5 separate regions of the Homo sapiens genome follow, and all the other regions are linked to region 1. Evidence: fine-mapped expression QTL. A gene starts in region 1. Each other region holds a variant in brackets. All regions are shown on one strand. Distances are between the middles of the regions.

Region 1 (4,116 bases):
CCTAGTAACAAAGGGTCCTGGGAGGTAGAGTGGCAGCTTGGTTGAGAAGTCAGGCTGGGCTTTATTTTCCTGTTGGCTCAAGGTCCATAACAAAGCTGGGCATAGTGGCTCTTCCCTGTAATCCCAGCACTTTGGGAGGCCAAGGTGGGAGGATCATTGAGCTCAGGAGTTCGAGACCAGCCTGGGCAACATGGCAAAACCCTGCCTCTAAAAAAATTCAAAAATTAGCCAGTCATGGTAGTGCATGCCTGTAATCCCAGCTACTCAGGAGGCTGAAGCAGGAGGATCACTTGAGCCCAAGCAGAGGTTGCAGTGAGCAAAGCTGGTGCCACTGCACTCCAGCCTGGGGAACACAGTGAGACCTTGTCTCAGAAAAAAAAAAAGAAAAAAAATTCCAAAACAATATTTGGAGCAGGGACCTAGGTAGTAAGCCATCCTCTCCAGCCTGGGGCAGAGCATCCACCTATTGAGTAAAGGATGCCGCATCACCCTCGGCTCCCATAAACACTGCAGCCTCTGAGGTTTCCTGTTGCCTCTCCTCCCTACCCCACAGCAAGCTGTGGAATATGTGGTGAAATAAGCCACAGTCATGACTAGAGCTCCACCTGCTTTGGGGGAGCCCTCCTTCCTCTGAGCACCCCCAGAGCCCTCAAAGATGTTAACTGAATTTGATTGCCATGTGAGGGACATAGCAACTTTGAGAACCTGGAACATAGGTCCTGAATCTCTTGGGCTATTGCCACAGGCAACAGGGAAGGGAACAGGCCAGCAGGGCCTCTGAAGACTTGAAGCTTGGATCGGCCTCCACGGAAGGTAATGAGTGGGAGAAGTCAGGATACATCGGGGCCCTCAGGTTGGACCGCAGGATTCCAGAAGGGAATGAACACAGAAGCTTGATCTTCCGCCTCTCCGGCCTTCACCCAGATTGGGAAATCTAGCAAAGTCCTGAATGTTCACTAATATTCCCAATCTCCTTCCATCATACAGATGAAAAGACAGCCCCGACAAGACAGGGAACAAATGTTTGTCAGGTGGATGATGGGAAGCAAGTCCCTGGGGCTCTTTAACTAGCTTGGCTTACCAAATCCTCACGATAATCCTGAGACAGGCAGGGAAGGGATGTTCACCTCCATCACTCGGAGTCAGCGCCTGAATTAAATCCCAGTCCACACTCTCATCCTTTCTCATCGCAGCTGCAGACTTGGGAAGGGGATGTGGGGAGACTGGTTGAGGCATTAACCTATTTACAGTTGTTTTTCCCCAAGAAATGAACTTTTAAAAGTTTTAAAAATTTTGAAATACTGGGGATAATGTTGTACTCAAGGAGAAACTCTTATGGTGAAATTCTAGGCACTCAGACTTTTAAAGAAATTGTACAGAATTGGCCCCCGTTTTAGAAAAGACTAGCAGCATTTCCCCACATATAAAAGGCATTTTAAAATTCCTTCCTGGCCTGCAGAAGCTCTCAGTACATGTTAATTACACCTGTCGCGCCCGGCCTCCTACCTTCCCGGGCTTCTCCACCCTCCATTCGGAAAAGAAAGCGCCGGAGGAGCTAAGCCCCACCCGCTTGCCAGCAATCTCCCCTCTCCCCGCCTCTTCCCTGTCACGCCTGCGCAGTTCGCTCAGCTCGAGCCCCCTGCCCTCAGGCGGCCCTGGGTAGCCATCAGGGCGCAGGCGCAGCTCCGCCCCCTCACCCTCCTCTCTGATCGGGCCCACCCCCTGGATCTAGCACCGCCTCTTCCGCGTTCTCGGAGGAGCGATCTGCAGGTAGGGGTGCGCGCGACCGCTCCCCGGCGGGAGCCAGCGAAGGTAAAAGCGAGACCTGCGAGGTATTCCTCCGAGCTAAATGGGGCCGGGGTCTGTGAGTGAGCTCGTGTGCCCGGAAGGGGGCAGTCAGGGCCTTCACGGCTGCCCGAGGTCACGACGCGATTCAGCTGCGGAGGGACAGCCTAAGGGGACGCTTTTCAGGACTGTCCCGAGCTGTCTGCGACCTCTGTGCCTGGGGTCGGGGCGTGGCCGGTGTCCGAGATGGCGCTTACTCTGTGGCCCGTTTGAGACTCAGTCTCTCCCAGGGATCAGGACCGAGGCTATGGCTGGGCGCAGGGCTCAGGCAGTCCAGTATCATGAATAGTTTTTCACGTGAGGAATTTGTGAAATCTGTGTACTGCGTTATTTTTAAGTTAATTGTTTTCATTTATTTTCAGTATTTAAAGGCTCCTGCCTGTGTGGATGGCTGTCCACAGGGAAAGGTAATAAGAGTGTCAGGTGCACCCTGTCTTCTAGAGAGCTCCAAGCTCCCTGACAGTGGCAGATCAGAGGCAGGCAGGCTCACAGGAATGAAGTGTTGTTAGAAGTGCTCAACTTCAGGGTCAGGGAGTCCTGGGTTTAGATCTCATCTCTTCCACCTCTTAGCTGTGTGTCCTGGGGCAAGTCTGCTTCCCCTCCCAGAGCTTCACTTTCTTCCCTAGGAAATGGCCATAATAGGGTCATTGTGAAGGGTGAATAGGATTATATGGAAGTCACCTAGTATGGCGCCTGTCATGTAATGGGTGCTGAATACATGGTAGCTGTGATTTCTAGGAGCTTGGTCATTTTGGATTGGGGTACTTTAGAAAGGCTCTGAGAGAAGAGTTGTTGTGACCTGGGCCTTGAAGCCTCAGTGGGATTTACAGATGGAACTGACCCTGCAGAATGGGAAGGGCACCACTGCCCATGCGCCAGGCACATGCTGGACAGTAGGTGTAATGTCTCACTGGATCACCACCCATCAGCCAGGTGCTTTCAGCCCACTCTCCTTAGCTTCAGCCCTTCATTAGAGGGCTGGGCTGGAAGTGATGTGAAGAGGAAATCCAGGGTTGGGTTTTATATGGAACTGAGCCAGCTAGAGGCTTTGGTGCCCCCTCTGCCCATCTGCTCCCACCTCAACACTTCTCTCTCTGTAATCCAGAGAGTTGGTTAGGAGTCCTGTTACTCTGGTATTTTGCAGATGTTGACAGTTGTGGGGGATGGCAACTCAGATTGCATGAAGCGAAGCCATGGGAGAGGGAAGCTCTGTGAACAGGAGCTGTCAGAGCCCAGCACGTGCTTAGAAAGTGCATGTGGTCTCCTGTAATGTGGTCCCAGAGTAATTGAATTACTTAGTTCCTTTTGCATCCTCTTCATGGGTGCCCTTGTGCTCTTCCTGAGACACTACTCGGAAACCTTGGTGGGCATCATTGCCTACTATATAGAGCAGTGGTGTCCAATCTTTTGGCTTCCCTGGGCCACATTGGAAGAAGAAGAACCATCTTGGGCCACACATAAAATACACTAACATTAACAATAGCTGATGAGCTTTAAAAAAATTGCAAAAAAATCTCAGTGTTTTAAGAACGTTTATGAATTTGTGTTGGACCACATTCAGAGCCATCCAGGGCCGCGGGTTGGACAAGCTGGATGTAGAGTTTGGACTCCAGCCTCAGACAAGTTCCTGCACAATTTGTTCCCACACCTCTCCCCTCCCTGTTTCCCTTGGTTTTCCCAAACCTGCAACCTGTGCTTCAGTCAAAATAAACTAGTTGTCTCTGTTTCTCCTTTTTTTTTGAGATGGAGTCTCACTTTGTCACCCAGGCTGGAGTGCAGTGGCACAATCTCGGCTCACTGCAACCTCCACTTCCCAGGTTCAAGTGATTCTCCTGCCTCAGCCTCCTGAGTAGCTGGAATTACAGGCATGAGCCACCACACCCGGCTAATTTTTGTATTTTTAGTAGAGACGGGGTTTCGCCATGTTGGCCAGGCTGGATTCAAACTTCTGACCTCAGGTGATCCGCCTGCCTGGGCCTCCCAAAGTGCTGGTACTACAGATGTGAGCCAACGTGCCCGGCCAAATCTCTGTTTCTCAAACACTCCCTGCATGTTCCTGCTCGAGCCTTTGCTTATATTCTCTCTTCCTGGATTTCCCTCCTCCTCCTCATCTTTCAAGGCTTACATCTCTTACATCTCATGTGGCCTCCATGGTGAAGCTTTTCTGAGCCTTCTGCTGGATTAGTTGTTCCCCTTTCCATCTTCTGTAGCAAAGGCTGACCCTCTAATATAGCTCTCATCATAGTCTGCCTAGGGATATGTACACTCCAT
Region 2 (4,116 bases), 41 kb after region 1:
TCCGGAGAGCAAACATGACCTGACAAAACCAGCTGCGGTGTGACAGCCACGGAGCCATGCACCCGTACAGCCATGCCTGGCTCCTCTTGCCCCGTAGTTTCTTATATCTGTGACCCTGTCTTCTGTTTTCCTTTTCAGGTGTCTCCAGTGAAAATCTGTGACTTTGACTTGGGCAGTGGGATGAAACTGAACAACTCCTGTACCCCCATAACCACACCAGAGCTGACCACCCCAGTACGTATGCTTCCTCTGGGCTCCTAAGTATTTGGAGTGTTTCCCTGATCCAGAGCTGGGAGGTCCAGAACAGAGGGTTAAGGATGGAAAACCAAGTGGACCTATCTTCCTGCTGCCTGAGTGATCATTTTGCTTGCTGCTCTGTGTTCGTGGCTCTCAAGCCTCCCCTGACCCCTTAGTTGCTAACGAAACTGACACTTGGACTGTTAGTTGGGTTGGGTCCTCTCTGCTGATGAAGAGACAAATTATATCTATAAGCACAGGCTGGCCGTTTGCAATGGCTCATGCCTGTAATCCTAGCACTTTAGGAGGTTGAGGCAGGCAGATCACCTGAGGTCAGGAGTTTGAGACCAGCCTGACCAACATGGAGAAACCCCATTGTACTGAAAATACAAAATTAGCCAGGCATGGTGGCGCGCACCTGTAATCCCAGCTACTTGGGAGGCTGAGGCAGGAGAATCGCTTGAACCCGAGGGGTGGAGGTTGCGGTGAGCCGAGATAGCACCATTGCACTCCAGCCTGGGCAACAAGAGCAAAACTCCGTCTCAAAAAAAAAAAAAAAAAAAAAAAAAAACAATAAAAAAAACACAGGCTGAGCCCTGACTCCTGACCCAGGTGAAAATGGACCCTACTCCCAGGCCAGCCCTTTTGCATATGAGCATTTGGGTAGTTCTGTAAGTCCTATTCCCACTGCTGAAGGCACAGCGCAGCCCCCTTGTAATGGGGGATGGAGAGCTGTTCTCCCTGACTGGACAGGATAGTCTCTCTGTGGTGGGAACTGTGAGGTCTCAGGCTATATGCACATGGGATCGCTTGGCCAAGTTAGCCTGTTTGCTTCTCTGATTTCACATTTCATGACCAGATGGTGCTGCTTGGAGCTACTTCTTCCTAAAACATCTCTTGTATAACTAATAGAGTATAATTATGATTCTTTTGAGATTTGTATGCTTCACAAGTAAATTTTCCTAATAACCCTTTTTTTTTTTTTTTTTTTTTGAGACAGAGTCTTGCTCTGTTGCCCAGGCTGGAATGCAGTGGCGTGATCTCGGCTCACTGCAAGCTCTGCCTCCTGGGTTCATGCCATCCTCCTGCCTCAGCCTCCCGAGTAGCTGGGACTACAGGCGCCCGCCACCACGCCTGGCTAATTTTTTGTATTTTTAGTAGAGACGGGGTTTCACCATGTTAGCCAGGATGGTCTCGATCTCCTGACCTTGTGAACCACCCGCCTCGGCCTCCCAAAGTGCTGGGATTACAGGCGTGAGCCACCACGCCTGGCCCCTAATAACCCTTTTAAGACATGCCCTTTAAGGGCATATTTAATATGCCTGTGTTGTATCTTATTCTAAACAACATTATCAGGAATGTTTCTTTCTTAGCTTCTAACACACTGGACTACCTTGTTTTCAAAGTCATTAATTCTAATTGACAATAACAAAGAAAATATCCTCTCTTGAGAACACTTACCATCTTTCAGTCAAATTAGTTTTGCAGGGTGTGTGGAGGCGGGAGGTGGTTGTTTCTTGGTGAGCCTGAAATAATGAAGAGTGGAGCAAAAAGAACGTGTTTTATTCCTATCAGCCGCTTTCTACACAAGGGTGAGAGAAAGGAATATTGGATTCTGGTCCTAGGGCTGCCATTGATGTGCTCAAACAGATCCCTGTCCCGTTCTTGGCCTTGCCCTTGCCATCTATAAATGGGAGGGGTGGGAAGGTTGGATTTGTTCTAAGAGCTTTGTAGCTTTGACGGTCTCTTAATTGTTACACTTCCTGCTCTGAGCTAGCAGGGGAGCACGACAGGATTCACTTTAAGAAATCTTGCTGTGTGGAACTGGATCTCCTTCCAGAGCCACATTCTTGGTGCATTTAAGTACCTGTACATGAAATATCTGTTTATAGGAAGCTGAAGCAGGGGGAGATTCCTGGAACTTCTTGGCCAAGGGTCTTTGCCTACTGGAGGAGGAACTGGAAGGATAAGGTGACCTGAACTGCTCCTCTGGATGATGGAAAATGATG[G/A]AGCTCAGTCTGCAGATGCCTTGGTGGCATCAGGCGGCTCACTGGCTGGCCTTCCTGATCTGTATCTCATCCTTCCAGCCTCCTGCTCCAGTCCCATCACAGTCTGCTCTCTGCCATCCCCTCTGCTGTAACTAAGCCTCTCTGTTCTCTGCCATCTCCCCCTCCCCCAACCCTGGCCCCCACAGTGTGGCTCTGCAGAATACATGGCCCCTGAGGTAGTGGAGGTCTTCACGGACCAGGCCACATTCTACGACAAGCGCTGTGACCTGTGGAGCCTGGGCGTGGTCCTCTACATCATGCTGAGTGGCTACCCACCCTTCGTGGGTCACTGCGGGGCCGACTGTGGCTGGGACCGGGGCGAGGTCTGCAGGGTGTGCCAGGTGAGTGCGGCCCCAGGGAGCACTGCGTAGACCCTGCTAGGGGTCAGTGTGGTTGGGGGATGCCAAGCAGGACTGGGCTGGGAGAGCGTTCCTGATCGGGATGGGGGCTCATAGTGCCCTCTCCCGCTCCTGTCACGGTGGCCACAAGGTAAAATAGAGATAATCAGACACTCCGCCCAGCTGGGAGTTCAGGGCAGGATTGTTAGAAGATCATGCCTGAACTGACTCTTTTTTTTTTTTTTTTTTTTTTTTTGAGATGGAGTCTCTCTCTGTCGCCCAGGCTGGAGTGCAATGGCACGATCTCGACTCACTGCAACCTCTGCCTCCTGGGTTCAAGCGATTCTCCTGCCTTAGGCCTCCCAAGTAGCTGGGACTACAGGCGCCGGCCACCACGTCTGGCTAATTTTTTATATTTTCAGTAGAGACGGGGTTTCATCGTGTTAGCCAGGATGGTCTCAATCTCCTGACCTTGTGATCCTCCCGCCTCGGCCTCCCAAAGTGCTGGGATTACAGGCGTGAGCCACCGCGCCCAGCCCTGAACTGACTCTTAAAGGGTGCATCCTGCCCTGCGGAAGAGGGACAAGAATCACAAGTAGAAGGAACAGCACGGGCATAGATGTGGGCACATGAAATAGCTGGAGTGTCTAGGAAGGAAGAGTGGAGTAGTAGGTCGGTGGTAGTGGGAGATGAGGCCTGAGAGGTTCACAGAGAGTCCTCTAGGAAGAGCCAAGGAATTTGGGCTTTGTTCTATGGGTGATCTCCACTCATCACCCATCCAGCCCACCAAGGGCATAGCCATCCTGGCCTGCCAAGGGCATTCTATATAGTTTGATCATCTAGGGGACAGTGCGGGGTGAGTCTGGGAAGAGGCCCCAGTCTGTGGCATCCCCAAGCCATGAGCTGCAGCTACAGCTGAGATCAATTGAAGCCGGTTGATCAAAACAATGACAGGCACATCCTGCCCATCCCTGGCAGTGTGGCCTCAGGAGGAATCTTTTGTACCTAGAACAAGCTGTTTGAAAGCATCCAGGAAGGCAAGTATGAGTTTCCTGACAAGGACTGGGCACACATCTCCAGTGAAGCCAAAGACCTCATCTCCAAGCTCCTGGTGCGAGATGCAAAGCAGAGACTTAGCGCCGCCCAAGTTCTGCAGCACCCATGGGTGCAGGGGGTGAGTGACTCCAGGGAGGGGTGTTTTCCACCACTTCAGGCCTGTGGCATGGCCACAAGGAAGCTGTCATGCCAGCAAGTGCTGAGCACCAGCCTTGTGGCTGGTGCAGCTGAAGAGGACAGCGTCTATCCCTGAGTGTGTAGAGTGAATCGACTCCTCCTGTTACCCCAGACTGAGCCCCTTATAGGCCATAGAGTTGGCTGTAAACTTGGCCACAGACTAAGCCCCAACAGAGTCCTCTGGGGATTTGGTACATGCACCCAGCCCCGCAAGCATCCTATTGTCATTTGAAGTCTGTAGCATCCTCCTCTTATATAGA
Region 3 (4,116 bases), 53 kb after region 1:
TCTGTCCTCATGTTCAGAAGCCTAGCTCAGGTCCCTCCCAGCCACAGCATTCTGGGGAGCTCACTCCTGGAACCTGCCCTCAAGGGGCTCTCAGCCTACAGAGGAGATAGAACAAGAACAGGGCAGCCATGGAGGCAGGTGGAGGAACAAGAAGTTGAGCCTGGCAATATGAGACTGCAGATGCAGTGCAGAGAGGGGGCATCCAAAGAGAGGCCAGGGAGGCTGGCGACGGGACTCCGAGCAGGATTATGGGACCCTAGGAATTGTGCCCAGGTGCAGGGCCAGGCCGGGGCCATATTCTGAGACTGGGGGGTCCCCAATCCATAAAGGGCCAAATAACGCAATGAATGATAAAGGCTGGAACTGGGGGCCGGGGCAGGGCTCAGGGCTAGGCTGCATTGGTGACCACTGCCCAGCCTTGGGGTGGGGCATCCTGCAAGTAACTCAGACAGGCTGGGTGCAGGTGCTCAGTTCAGCGGATGGGAAGGCACCAACCATGACCCAGCCTCCCACTCCCGGCACCTAGCCCCTACCAAGTCCTCTTCTCTACCCTACCCCTTAGGTGTTTTCCTCCTGCCCACACCAGCACCACCACTGCTCTTCCCTTTCACTCCCAGTCGGGATCCCCAAGGTGGCTAGAAGGGTTCACTCTCCATTCCACTGGCCACTAAAAGGGGGGTGGGTACCAAGCCCACCTGAGGACAAGGGAGTCCCCTGAGATCAAGCCTCAAACTAGGACGCCCTCAGCCCTACCTGGGAGCCCAGAGGTGGACAGGATGGGGATGGGATGGGCAGGGGTAGGGAGCAGACTTGGAGGGATGCCTCTCCCTGTCCGCTTTCCATACCAGGTGCAGTTCCTGTCTCTTGAGCCTCCTGCTGTGTGTCTATCTCAGACTCCAAGCAGAGACCCCAGGTGCACCTCCAGGCCAAAGGGCAGAGCACATTACAGCGGGCCCTGAGCATGTGATCAGGAGTCTCCTCACATCCCTGGCTTCTGAACGACATGCAAAGCCACCAGCTCGTTCTTCCTCCTCAGGAACCAGCAGTGGAACCTGGGCTGACTGCCCGCTGGGCCCTGGGACCCAGACAGCCACTCACATTGCAACCTCATGAATAACTCAGCACCTCCCTGCTGCCTACATCTCTGAGGAGCCTGTGGCCGCTGGACCAACTCCCCCCTCACCCTGCCTCTCATTGCTTTAAATTTTCATAGGCTGAGGTTCAGTGGCAAGTAAGTGGCTCTAGGAAGCTGGGGCAGGATGTCCTGGGCAGGGGAGCTTGAACTCTCCTGGGTGGAGGCTGGCAGGGAAGGATCCTATGGAACAGGCCCAGCTCCCTAGAACTCTGGCAGCCAAAGCAGAAATGTAGCCAGACAGGAGTCCCAAGGGTGGGCTTCAGCTTCAGAGGGCTTTGAGAGAGGAAGAGTAAGCTGGGTGACCTCGTACAGATCCCTGGTCAAGGTGGGACTGGGGGGCCCGTAGTGGAGCAGTGGAATAGGACTGCAGATAAATCCCAGGGTTCCCCACCTATCATCTTACTGCCCAGAAACTCCTACCCTGAAGTTGGAGCGCCAACAAGGAGACATCCAAGAGCCCAGAAACTTCCAGGACTTTTCTGGGGCCAGACTGCACC[G/A]GCTGGAGGCAGTGCCCCGGGTGGGCCTGCATGGACATCCCCATCAGCAGCAGAGACTTCCGCGGCCTGCAGCTGGCCTGCGTGGCTCTCGGGCTGGTGGCTGGCAGCATCATTATCGGCATCTCCGTATCCAAGGCTGCAGCTGCCATGGGCGGTGTCTTTATTGGCGCTGCTGTTCTGGGTGAGCAGGGGCTGGGCTGGGATAGGGAAGGGAGATTCTGGAGGTGGGGGCAGGGGCATCGTCAGGTGAACAAGGAACAGGGAAGGGCTGGGTCAGCAGGAATCAGCTGGGGAGAACGGAAGCTAGAGGTGTGAGCAAGGCCGCCATCAGGGGCACAGGCGGGAGAGGAGCGACGCGCTGGGGCTCCTTCCAGCCACAGGGAGGAGAAAAGAAGGAGAGCTGGCCGTCACACTCTTTTCTGGCTACTCCCACTGGCTCTCCAGCCCCAAGCTCTAGGCTCCTGGATTTGTGGTGGGATTCATCAGCCTATCTGGGCGGAACAGGGGGTTGATGGCGGCAGGTAAAAGGACAGAGCTCCTGAGGACTCTCTGAGCCAAGACAGGCTCCAGCTCAGAAAAAGGGTTTCGTCTTCTTTCCCTGTTTGCCTCCACAGCAGCTGTGTCCATCTATCTGTGTGGGGCCACGCCCACTGATTGCCCCGCAGTGACGCTGAATGCCATCCCTCACCTCACCTCACCTCACCCCACCCCCCGCCCCCGCCCAGGCCAAAGGCAGGACCAGAAGCATCAGGCTAGGGGGCTTTAGGTATCTACACCTGCGGGTTCTGGCACAGATGCTCATCGGGGGATGGAGCGGGGGCGGGCAAGGCAGGACTGGCTCCACTGCTCCTGCTCCCCAGGTCTGGGTGGGGAGGAACATGCTGAGGACAAGCACCCAGTCCGGCCCTGGGGGCCCTGGGGAAGCGTGGGGACAGCAGAGACGCAGTGGTGGTGTCAGCCAGGCTCATTCCAGCAACCTGCTCTTCACTTAGGAACGGTGGAGCCAGGCAGGTGGGGCCTTCACAGTCTGTAGCCTCTTCCCCAAACAGGCACTGCCCCCACCAACCCAGATGCACACACCCACAGGCTCACATTTACACACTCACAGTCCCAAGTCTGCACACTGTGCTCCTCCCATGCACACCCATATCTCACAAACCACCCCTCAGGCTCCCAGCCCACCCACAGCCTCAACACTCACCAGGCTCCTCCCCATCACAGAACCCCCTGTGTCTCTTCTCAGGGCTCCTCATCTTGGCCTACCCCTTCCTGAAGGCTCGGTTCAACCTGGACCACATCCTGCCTACCATAGGTGAGGCCTCTCCCTGACCCCAGCAGACCCCTCTGCCAAGGACTGTTCCAGACCCTTTGTGTGCTCGTCTGTGACCCACTGTGTGGCTGGGATGAGCCCATGTGTGAGACCGCGCTAGCTGTCTGTGTTAGAGCTGCTGTGTGTGTGTGTGTTGTGCAGGCGTTGCCATGACTACAGAACGGCAGAATCCAGCCTGCAGCAAAGGTGCCTGAACCAGCTCAGAGCTGGGAAGTTCATCTCCCTTGAGAGATTTTATGACTCCCCAAAGCCTCCAACATCTCTAAATAACTCCCTCTCCATCCCTGAGCCCCCATGAAAGACCCTCTATTTCCCCTAAGACCCCACAGCCTCTGCACAGCTCCCACCTCATCTCAGCTCCCCACATACAGGCTGCCATCTCCACCAATCCTATGGGGCTTCTCATGGCCCCAGTTCTCCCCGGGACCTCACCTCCCTAAAAGATCTGCCATTTTCTCCTTCAAGGGCCCAGTTCTTTTTCTCCTGCCCAAATCAGCCCAGATCATGTGAGACCTAAAGGAATGCAGTGGAGCAAAGACAGCATCAGGGATGGAGACTAGATAGCAAGAAGGACTTCCCTTCCCAACCTAGGCTTGATTTGGGGAATGGCTCAGTAATCAGGGGGCTTGGGGTGGTCTCATCCTGCAGGGAGCCTAAGAATCCATCCCCATCCAGGGGCAGACCACGGGGAAGGAAGATCCAGCACCAATGGCAACAAGGAAGGTAAGTTCCAGAAATTCCCGAGTCCATCCTTCTTTTTTCTTTTTTTTTTTTGAGACAGAGTTTTGCTCGTGTTGCCCAGGCTGGAGTGCAATGGCATGATCTCGGCTCACTGCAACCTCCACCTCCCGGTTTCAAGCAATTCTCCTGCCTCAGCCTCCCGAGCAGCTGGGATTACAGACATGTGCCACCACGCCTGGCTAATTTTTGTATTTTTAGTAGAGACGGGGTTTCTCCATGTTGGTCAGGCTGGTCTCGAACTCCCAACCTCAGGTGATCCACCCGCCTCGGCCTCCCAAAGTGCTGGGATTATAGGCGTGAGCCACCGTGCCCAGCCTGAATCCATCTTTCATCTCCCCTCCCTGACTGAGCAGCTCCATGGGGCCCGGGAGCCTTGAGCGGCATGCCGAAGGGGCCTCCCCAGTGCGGGGAGA
Region 4 (4,116 bases), 29 kb after region 1:
TGGCCACAGAAGAGGAGGCTATTTCTTACCATCTCCTGACTCCAGCATTTAGCTCTCACTCCTGTCCCCACAAGGCAGGTACCTCCTTCCGCCCCTTTCAGTGTTAGGGAGAGAAAGGAAAAGCAGCAGTAACAGCAAAGGAGCTATTATCTCTTCTGAAATACTGTAAATATCATCAATTCAAGCAAGTTAGAAGAATGAACTATCTGAATCAGTGGTTGTTGGGGGGAAATGGGGTTTTATTTCTTTCGGTACCTGTGGAAACTAGGTTGACTGAGTGTTGCCTGGTAGAAATCTTTAAGGACTTGCCTTAATACCAAGATGAGGAGAACTGTTAAGAATATTTGCTGCTGTTTCTGCTCCTAGAATGTTTACATATGTGCAGATACCACTAAGATCCTGGAACCTTCCAGATAGCTGGGTCCGGCTCATCTCTAGCCCCAGTTCATTCTGCCCACCACCAGCTCCAAATGAGCAGCTCTCCCACTGTGGCTTTAAATCAGGGGCACCTCTAAGACTCCACTTCCCCCTCTCTCCCTCCACGGTAGGGTCAGCAGGGAGCCAGTGGCCTGGTATTGATGGCTTTGTCATTAAGCTTGGAGGATTGGAGGACGGGGGCTGCTGTTGATTTAACTCCAGGCACTGCCTCCACAATCTTCTTTCAAATTAGGCCATTTTGCCCATCTTATTTGGATGCCTTCACACTAGTAAAAGCCTCATATCTCCCAAAGTAGTCAGCATTTTTTTTATGAGGGACAGATTTTTATTTTCAGCCCTGCAGCTTCTTAGTTCAGCATTAGAGACTCTACTTGGTTTATTTTATTTTGTAAAAGAAAAAAAGCCCACAACACCTCCAATATCCAGGCTGGTGGCTTCCCTACTGAGTTACAAGACGACCTTGTTGGCAGAGCACTGAAATACTCGGGCAGACAGAGAGTGCTCACCGGGGAAGGCCACAAGTGCTACAGTGGCCAGGAACGCGGCCGTTTCATTAAGCAGCGCTTAGCAGTTAGGGTCTAGCGGTGCCCATGTTAGGCCCCAAGTCCATTTGACAGATGTTTCCATTTTCTCCAGGCAATGTAAATACTGCCCCGTGATTTATGGGCAAGAGGGAGGGCAAGTAATTATTTGCTGCTTGCCTCCAGGACACACACCTAGTATTCAGTGTTATTAGCCGCAATTGCTTCCAGTCGGCTGCAGATTTTATTCAGTTTAATGTGACCGGGACTTTTTTATAACTCTACCTAGTGGGTTTTAGGGCTGGGGTTTGACAGCACAGACTTGGTGAAAACACCAGAGACTAAACATTATGGAAAGATAAGGTGACCTGAATCTTGCTAACACCATTGGCTGCTTCCATACGCGGGTCTTTAATAAGCATTCTGATTTCAAGTTGGTTTCTGCCCCACTACCAGGTGTTGTATATTTTTTTCATTGTATATTTGTAAGTAGACTTTAATATATAATACCATTTCCCCCCTTTTCCCTCTCCTCCTATTTTCCCTATTTAAGGAACATTTTGGAGCTGATTGAGTTCTTTGAAGATGACACAAGGTTTTACTTGGTCTTTGAGAAATTGCAAGGAGGTACTTACCGTTGAGTATGTGTGT[G/A]GACTTCTGATTAAGACCCAGGGTGGTGATCATCCATCATGAATCCCAGAGACTTCCAAAACGAGTCAAGCTAATAAAAAGGATGAAGGACTTAAAAACTGCCCTTGATTTGGGAGAAGGGAGGCCGGAGGGAAGGATGATAATTAGCATTTTGCAGAGCTTAGAATGTCACCTGTGTGGGTATTTTATAAATGCCTTTTCATTATAATAGGAGTCATATATAGATACATTTAGTCATCGATTTATCAATCCCGTTTTGACATGTTCACTGTTTAACTACATTAATTATGGGGTGGAAGCTCTCAAATACATTGCGAAGTCTAGAAAGGCTAAAACAGAGGAGAGGAGGGTCCTATTGTTTGGGACACAGACCCAGGATAAAGGGGAAGCCTGAGAATGTGCCATCCTTCAGATGGAAAGATGCCATCACCCACACACATAATCACTGGGGTGTATACTTAAGTTGCTTTTCTGACATAATGAGGTGGGGTAGAGAAACCCTTTCCCTTCCCATCACTCCCCCAATCTTAGGACACACTTGCAGGGATGTCTGGAACTGCATGGAGGGCCACACGGAGGGGCTTGGTGGTTGAGGGAGCGTGCTTTAGAAACCAACACAGCTAAAGCTTATGTTATGTCTAGCTGCATCACTTACTAGCCATGTGATCTTGGGCAAGTCACTTAACCTTTTCTAAACAATATTCCCTTCTATAAAATAGAGATATTGATAGCACCTACCTCACTGGGTTGCTGTGAAGATTAAATGAGATAATTCATGTGAAATGCTTAGGACAGTGTCTGGTAGGCACTAAGGGCCCAATAAATGTTGGCTGCTAATATTATTAAAACAATTTGGTATGCTGGGGGATGTCTTAGAAGTATGTAGAGTAGACCAGGTACAGTGGCTCACGCCTATAATCCCAGCACTTTGGGATGCCAAGGTGGGCAGATCACTTGAGGTCAGGAGTTCAAGACCAGCCTGGCCAACATGGTGAAACCCGGCTCTACTAAAAATACAAAAATTAGCTGGGTGTGCTGGCACATGCCTGTAATCCCAGCTACTCAGGAGGCTGAGGCAGAAGAATCGCTTGAACCTGGGAGGCAGAGGTTGCAGTGAGCCGAGATCGCACCACTACACTCCAGCCTGGGCAACAGAGTGAGACTCTGTCTCAAAAAAAAAAAAAAAAAAGTATGTAAAGCATTATTCTCTGCTTTTCCTTTTAACAGATTTGGAAACGAGGCTCACTACAGCAGAGCAAGCTAGGACCTAGTCATGAGCCGGTTTTCTGGGAATGTTCCCTAGCACATTGGGATCCGTTGTTTAATCTGGCAAGCGAACAATCTTTGGCAGTTCTTCCCCTTCTCTCATGCCCTCCCCATCCCCCCTAAAAAACAGTAGACATGTGCCATTTTTAGGACAGAGAGATAATACCTTCAGCCCAGAAATGCTGGCTTCTAGTAGTAAACATAAACCACATGAAGCCAAGCCACATGTTCCTGCCTGTGTCTGCCCCTGCACCACCCAATAACACATGACTGACTGTTAATTACATGTTTGAAATGCTACATGCAGATGGGATCCTCTGTCGCCATATCAGTAAACTTAATGTAGCTTATTGAGGCCAGACCCAGTGTGGTTGGCTCAAGAGAGTCCATCCCTGCAGCAGTCAGACCACAAGTCCTGCTGGGGGATGTCTGCACAGACTCGGAGGCCTGACTGACGCCCTGGGCCTAAGTCCTGGCCTCACCCCTTACTGGTGCGTAATCTTGGGCAAGTTGCTCAACCATTTTTCTTTTTGGCTTCAGGATCTCCCTCTGTAAAACGAGAATAAGTGTACTACCCATTTTGTCCAATTGTGGTGAGAATAAGACAGTTTATTTCAAGAGTATTCCATAGCACATGGCACTAGTAACTACTCAGTAAATGTTAGCCATTGCCAACAAAACAATAATGAATGGGAAAGCTCAGGCGGAAAACCCATTTTTCCCCCCTTTTCCCAGGCCTTTACATGTCTGGCAAGGGTGTGGCATTTCCATTTGAAAGTTTGTGCTCTTGTTTGGATCAGAGATCAGATGCAGGGGAGAAAACGTTGCTGCAGAAAGGCCCCCTCAGCTCCAAGTGCCTTCAGTTTTATTCCTTTTGATTGCAGAAGCCAAATCAGCCTCAGCATCATTAGTGTTTTTTGGCCCTATTTATAGTTGTTCTCTCTCGCTTCTGAGCTCCTCATAGACAGGTACAGAAGAGAGTAGTCCAGTTTTGTTTAACAGACATACAAGCTGGTACCTCCTCCGTACCAGGCCCCACACTTGGAGCTGGACAGGTAGTGATGAGTCAGCGATGAATCCCTATGTCCCCACCCCAAGTTTTCCAAACTTGGGAAAACTTGGCCTCTAAGAAGTTATACGGCCAGGCGCAGTGGCTCACGCCTGTAATCCCAACAGTTTGGGAGGCTGAGGCAGGCGGATCACTTGGTCGGGAGTTCGAGACCAGCCTGACCAACATGGT
Region 5 (4,116 bases), 22 kb after region 1:
GGATGCCGTAGGCTCCATAGGCACTCAAGTCCGTGCTCTTGGACATGAAGTAATTTGGGGCTATTTTGAACCCCAGCCCTATTGCTACCTTCACAGAGGCTGTCTCCACTCCAGGCCATTTGTGCCCTGTGTGCATCCATAGCGATGTTGCTGAGCCTATGACTCATCTGCATGGTCCCCCACTCCCAACCCCCTTCTTGCCTAGCTCTCTCGGTTTTGCCTTTCTGATGCTGAGGCTGGAGGATGTCACAGGTGGGGTTCTGCCTATGGAGTCATTGTTCTGTTTGGGGAATATGGTTTGACCAGTGGCAGATCTAAATCCACGCGCTAATGAGCTTGGTTAAAGCAGGCTTCCGCTGGCCTCTTTTAATCTAGCCTGCCTGTCTGAGCTCCTTTCCACAGTTAATGATCTCCCATAATGGCTTTGCCTTTAGTTTTTCCTCCTAGGTCAAAACAAATCAATAGTCTTCACAGATATTTAAAAACCATCAGTGTAAACCTCCTGGGTCCTCCCCCACTACCTTTTTTTTTTCCTTCTGGGTAAATTTACAGCTTGATCAGTACAGTGATGTTTCCCTTACATCTCCTCTTATCTCCTAGAGATGGGCAGTAGCGAACCCCTTCCCATCGCAGATGGTGACAGGAGGAGGAAGAAGAAGCGGAGGGGCCGGGCCACTGACTCCTTGCCAGGAAAGTTTGAAGGTTGGTCACACAACTTCCCTATATCTGGGCCTGCAGCTTCCCAAGCATGGGAGGAGCATCCCGGGAGCCACAGGTCCGATCACAGAATGCGTCAAGTTAGAGCCAGATGGTGGTTATCTGTGTGGTAGGGAGATAAGATGGGGATGAGGGAGTTTACACAGGGCATTACAGAAAGAGAGCAGGGATGGAAAAAGCTCTCAGATGATGCACTGGCCTCCTGTGAATGGCTCAGGTACTGCTTCCTTTTCAGGGAGCAGGAAGACCCATCTATCAGTGGCATTGCCTGGGGTCTTCCTTTTTTCAGATGTGATTCTTCCCTCAGCTATTCCTGGAGGGGCTGCTGAGAGATAGAACTATATAAGAGGAAGAGAGAAACACCAAAGGCCATGGCCGCAAATGAAACTTCAGTCTCCTGTAAGCAGAGAATTTGTCTCTCAGATTGTAGCTACTTATGCTGTGTGTGTTTGACTACATTTTAAAGAATACGTGTTGTGTTCAGTAGAAACGATGTTGGGTCATCAGACATTTTTTGACACTCTCTGTGTGCGAGGCACTAGGCTCAGTGTGGGTCCTGTTATCACTGGGCATGTGATGGGGTGATTGGACACTTGTGCAAAGCACCAAGAGGATCAGTAGCTACTCCTAGGAGTAACGTGCCCCACTTCATCTGTTTTGTTTTCTTTCGTTGTGAGGTCTGAAGTAGCTTCGCCTCTTGGTCCCTCCTTCCAGCCTTCCAGACACACTAGTGAATTGGCTGTTCTGTAAAGTGGTTCCAATAACAAGCACTTTATCGGTTGGGAATATGGGACCTCCAGCCACCCACCTATCCTGATATGTGTAAAGGGCTAATGCCAATGTGTCCATTGTGAGAAGCATGTCATTTAAAACACTTACGAATAACAGTGTGCCATCTGCTCTTATAAACAACTGAAAGACCAAACCGTGATGGAACCAAGAAGGTACTTTCAGCAGGGGTTTTTTGTTTGCCTTTAACTCAAACAGCAGGGGTGTGTGTCTGTGTGTGTGTGTCTGTGTGTGTCAGGGTATGGGGATGGGGGAGAGACAAAGATCCCAAGGTATTCAAATAGTTTCCTAATCAACAGCTCTTTTGCTCTTTCAGTTAACACAAGAGAGTACTTCCTATTTTTAAGGACAGCTTGTGCAATGACAGGACTTCTCCTGACTGAGAGTGATAAAATCTAATTCATGGTTGAAATGTCTTCTGCTCAGGCTGTGGGTTTCAATGCTAGGTGCCTCAAGAGGAAAAGGCTGAAGAATGGAGGCCGAGTGGGGATGAGGTCAGGCAGCTAGTGCTGTGATGGAGATGTAGCCTCCTTTGGAAGGGGCTCAAAGAGCTGTGCTCTTTGTGAGCTTGGGCAGGTCATCTAGATGTTCCTTTAACCCAGGTCTATTACTCTGTTAGAACAACTATGACTCAGTACCCTAAAAACCTCAAGG[T/C]GTCCTTTGCATCCTACTTCTATTTCCTGTGGGTGACTTCTGGAGACTTCTCAGAAGCCTCCAATGACTTCCATGTATGGGGTATAAAATAGAACAGTGTTTTATTCTCCTTTGTATAGCCAGTGCTTACACAGAACTTGGCACATAATAGGTGCTCAGTAAATGAGTAAATGAATATTCATTCAAATCATACCACTTCTCCTCTGATGATCCTCCAGATTCTCTGACCAATTTTTTTTTTTTTTTTTTTTTTTTTTTTTTGATATGGGGTCTCACTCTGTCACCAGGCTGGAGTGCAGTGGCACGATCTTGGCTCACTACAACCTCCGCCTCTCGGGTTCAAGCGATTCTCCTGCCTCAGCCCCCGAAATAGCTGGGACTTTAGGCGCGTGCCACCACACCCAGCTAATTTTTGTATTTTTAGTAGAGACGGGGTTTCCCACATTGGCCAGGATGGTCTCGATTTCTTCACCTCTTGATCTGCCCACCTCGGCCTCCCAAAGTGCCGGGACTACAGGTGTGAGCCACCATGCCCAGCCTCTCTGAACAGATTTAACCCTTTCTTCCCCCAACTTTTTTTTTTAACTGTACTTTGTCCCTCTGTGATAGTATTTACCAATGCCTGGTTTATTCTGGGGTCACCTGTGTATGTGTCTGTCTTCCCCACTGGACTGCGACCCTTAGAGGAGAGGGATCATGCGTATATATATTTTAGAGATGGGGTCTTGCTATGTTGGCCAGATTGGTTCTGAACTCCTGGCCTCAAGCAATCCTCCTGGCTTGGCCTCCCAAAGTGCTAGGATTACAGGTGTAAGCCCCTGCACCTGGCCTTTATTTTATTCCTTACTCTGTTATGCTGTCTGGCACATAGTAGATATTCAGGAAGTATGTGCCGAATTGAGACCCTTTTGCTAACCTCATCGCTAAAATGAGGAACAGGATGCCTTGTATGTGGTCTTGTTGTTGAGAAACTGGGTCCTCAGGTGGCTGGGAAAGCTACTTGTCTTCCTTGTCACTGAGTGCTAGAGTCATTGGGTGCCTGTGTCGTCTGATCAGGGAAGCTGAGCCACAAAAGTTCTTCCCATCTGAGCTTGCAGTAGGGTGACTCATCTTGTTATTCCTCTCATCCATTTCACCTCTAGATATGTACAAGCTGACCTCTGAATTGCTTGGAGAGGGAGCCTATGCCAAAGTTCAAGGTGCCGTGAGCCTACAGAATGGCAAAGAGTATGCCGTCAAAGTGAGTGTCTCAGCTGAATGCCAGGCTTTACTTTGCAAATAGTCATTCCTAGCTCATCTTGAACCAAATAAATGTTATATTCCATAAGAATGGGGACTCTGAAGCTGTATTCACTGGATTCAAATCTTGGTTTCTCTACTTACTGTGTACCTCGGGCAAGTTACTTAACTTCTCTGTCCTTCAGTTTTCTCATCTGTAAAATGGGTATAATACTAGAACCTATGTAGAATTGTTGTGAGGATTAAATAAGTTAATATAGGTAAAGTGCTTAGCACAATGCCTGGCTCATAGTAAGTTTCTCATTATTCTGACAAATGAAGTCAGCTTCAGGGAGTGGACAACCAGATTTGGAATTAGAAGGCCTACCTGAATATCTATTTTGACAAACTATAACTGTTTGACTTTGGGCAAGTCATCAAATGTCCGTAAGCCTCAGTTCCTACATCTCTAAATGATGATACCTGCCCTTCAGTCTCCTGAGGCAGTTATGAAGATGAAAATTAAAATATCCTGGGAGAGGTGGAAACACTTTACACGTCACAAAATGCTATCCAAGTGTTAGATGTTAGCATGATAGTGAGGATTAAAAACTAAGGTGACTGATTTGGTAACATCTGAATGATGTCTCAGAAAAAAAAAATTAAAAGAAGAAAACAAAACTAAAGCGACTGAGCACTCAGTTTTGGGGCAGGAGAAGTGGCTTCTGGCCTCATTGC

Direction of the effects. Alleles are on the strand shown, and positions count from the first base shown. SD is a standard deviation of normalised expression in the study named. Not every link is listed here.
In carriers of allele T in region 5, the expression in whole blood of the gene that starts at base 1,729 in region 1 tends to be lower than with C alone (small effect, 0.22 SD a copy in GTEx).

The links.
Region 2: its variant is fine-mapped to the expression of MKNK1 in whole blood (TOPMed, PIP above 0.99).
Region 3: its variant is fine-mapped to the expression of MKNK1 in whole blood (TOPMed, PIP above 0.99).
Region 4: its variant is fine-mapped to the expression of MKNK1 in lung (TOPMed, PIP above 0.99). The same link has a PIP of 0.9 or more in blood mononuclear cells, fibroblasts and whole blood.
Region 5: its variant is fine-mapped to the expression of MKNK1 in whole blood (TOPMed, PIP above 0.99). The same link has a PIP of 0.9 or more in T cells and blood mononuclear cells.

The regions. Positions count from the first base shown.
Region 1 is chr1:46,601,881-46,605,996 of GRCh38, reverse strand. It overlaps MKNK1 (MAPK interacting serine/threonine kinase 1), which reads left to right and starts at 1,729. Exons shown (of 13, transcript NM_001135553.4): 1 at 1,729-1,812. RefSeq lists a silencer at 1,548-1,767 and enhancers at 2,098-2,147, 1,915-2,415.
Region 2 is chr1:46,561,159-46,565,274 of GRCh38, reverse strand. It overlaps MKNK1 (MAPK interacting serine/threonine kinase 1), which reads left to right. Exons shown (of 13, transcript NM_001135553.4): 9 at 139-234; 10 at 2,432-2,626; 11 at 3,633-3,797. It overlaps MKNK1-AS1 (MKNK1 antisense RNA 1), which reads right to left. Exons shown (of 8, transcript NR_038403.1): 6 at 1,699-1,763. Among named protein-coding and RNA genes, the nearest start is that of KNCN, 12 kb to the right of the region's middle. The variant G/A (reference allele first, on the strand shown) is at 2,247.
Region 3 is chr1:46,548,762-46,552,877 of GRCh38, reverse strand. It overlaps KNCN (kinocilin), which reads left to right and starts at 1,231. Exons shown (of 4, transcript NM_001322255.2): 1 at 1,231-1,813; 2 at 2,876-2,944; 3 at 3,611-3,685. The coding sequence starts at 1,663. The region is part of intron 3 of MKNK1-AS1 (MKNK1 antisense RNA 1); the gene reads right to left. RefSeq lists an enhancer at 2,469-3,108. The variant G/A (reference allele first, on the strand shown) is at 1,633.
Region 4 is chr1:46,572,417-46,576,532 of GRCh38, reverse strand. It overlaps MKNK1 (MAPK interacting serine/threonine kinase 1), which reads left to right. Exons shown (of 13, transcript NM_001135553.4): 6 at 1,513-1,586. Among named protein-coding and RNA genes, the nearest start is that of KNCN, 23 kb to the right of the region's middle. The variant G/A (reference allele first, on the strand shown) is at 1,611.
Region 5 is chr1:46,579,814-46,583,929 of GRCh38, reverse strand. MKNK1 (MAPK interacting serine/threonine kinase 1) reads left to right here. Exons shown (of 13, transcript NM_001135553.4): 3 at 601-702; 4 at 3,303-3,400. The coding sequence starts at 603. Among named protein-coding and RNA genes, the nearest start is that of MKNK1, 22 kb to the left of the region's middle. The variant T/C (reference allele first, on the strand shown) is at 2,161.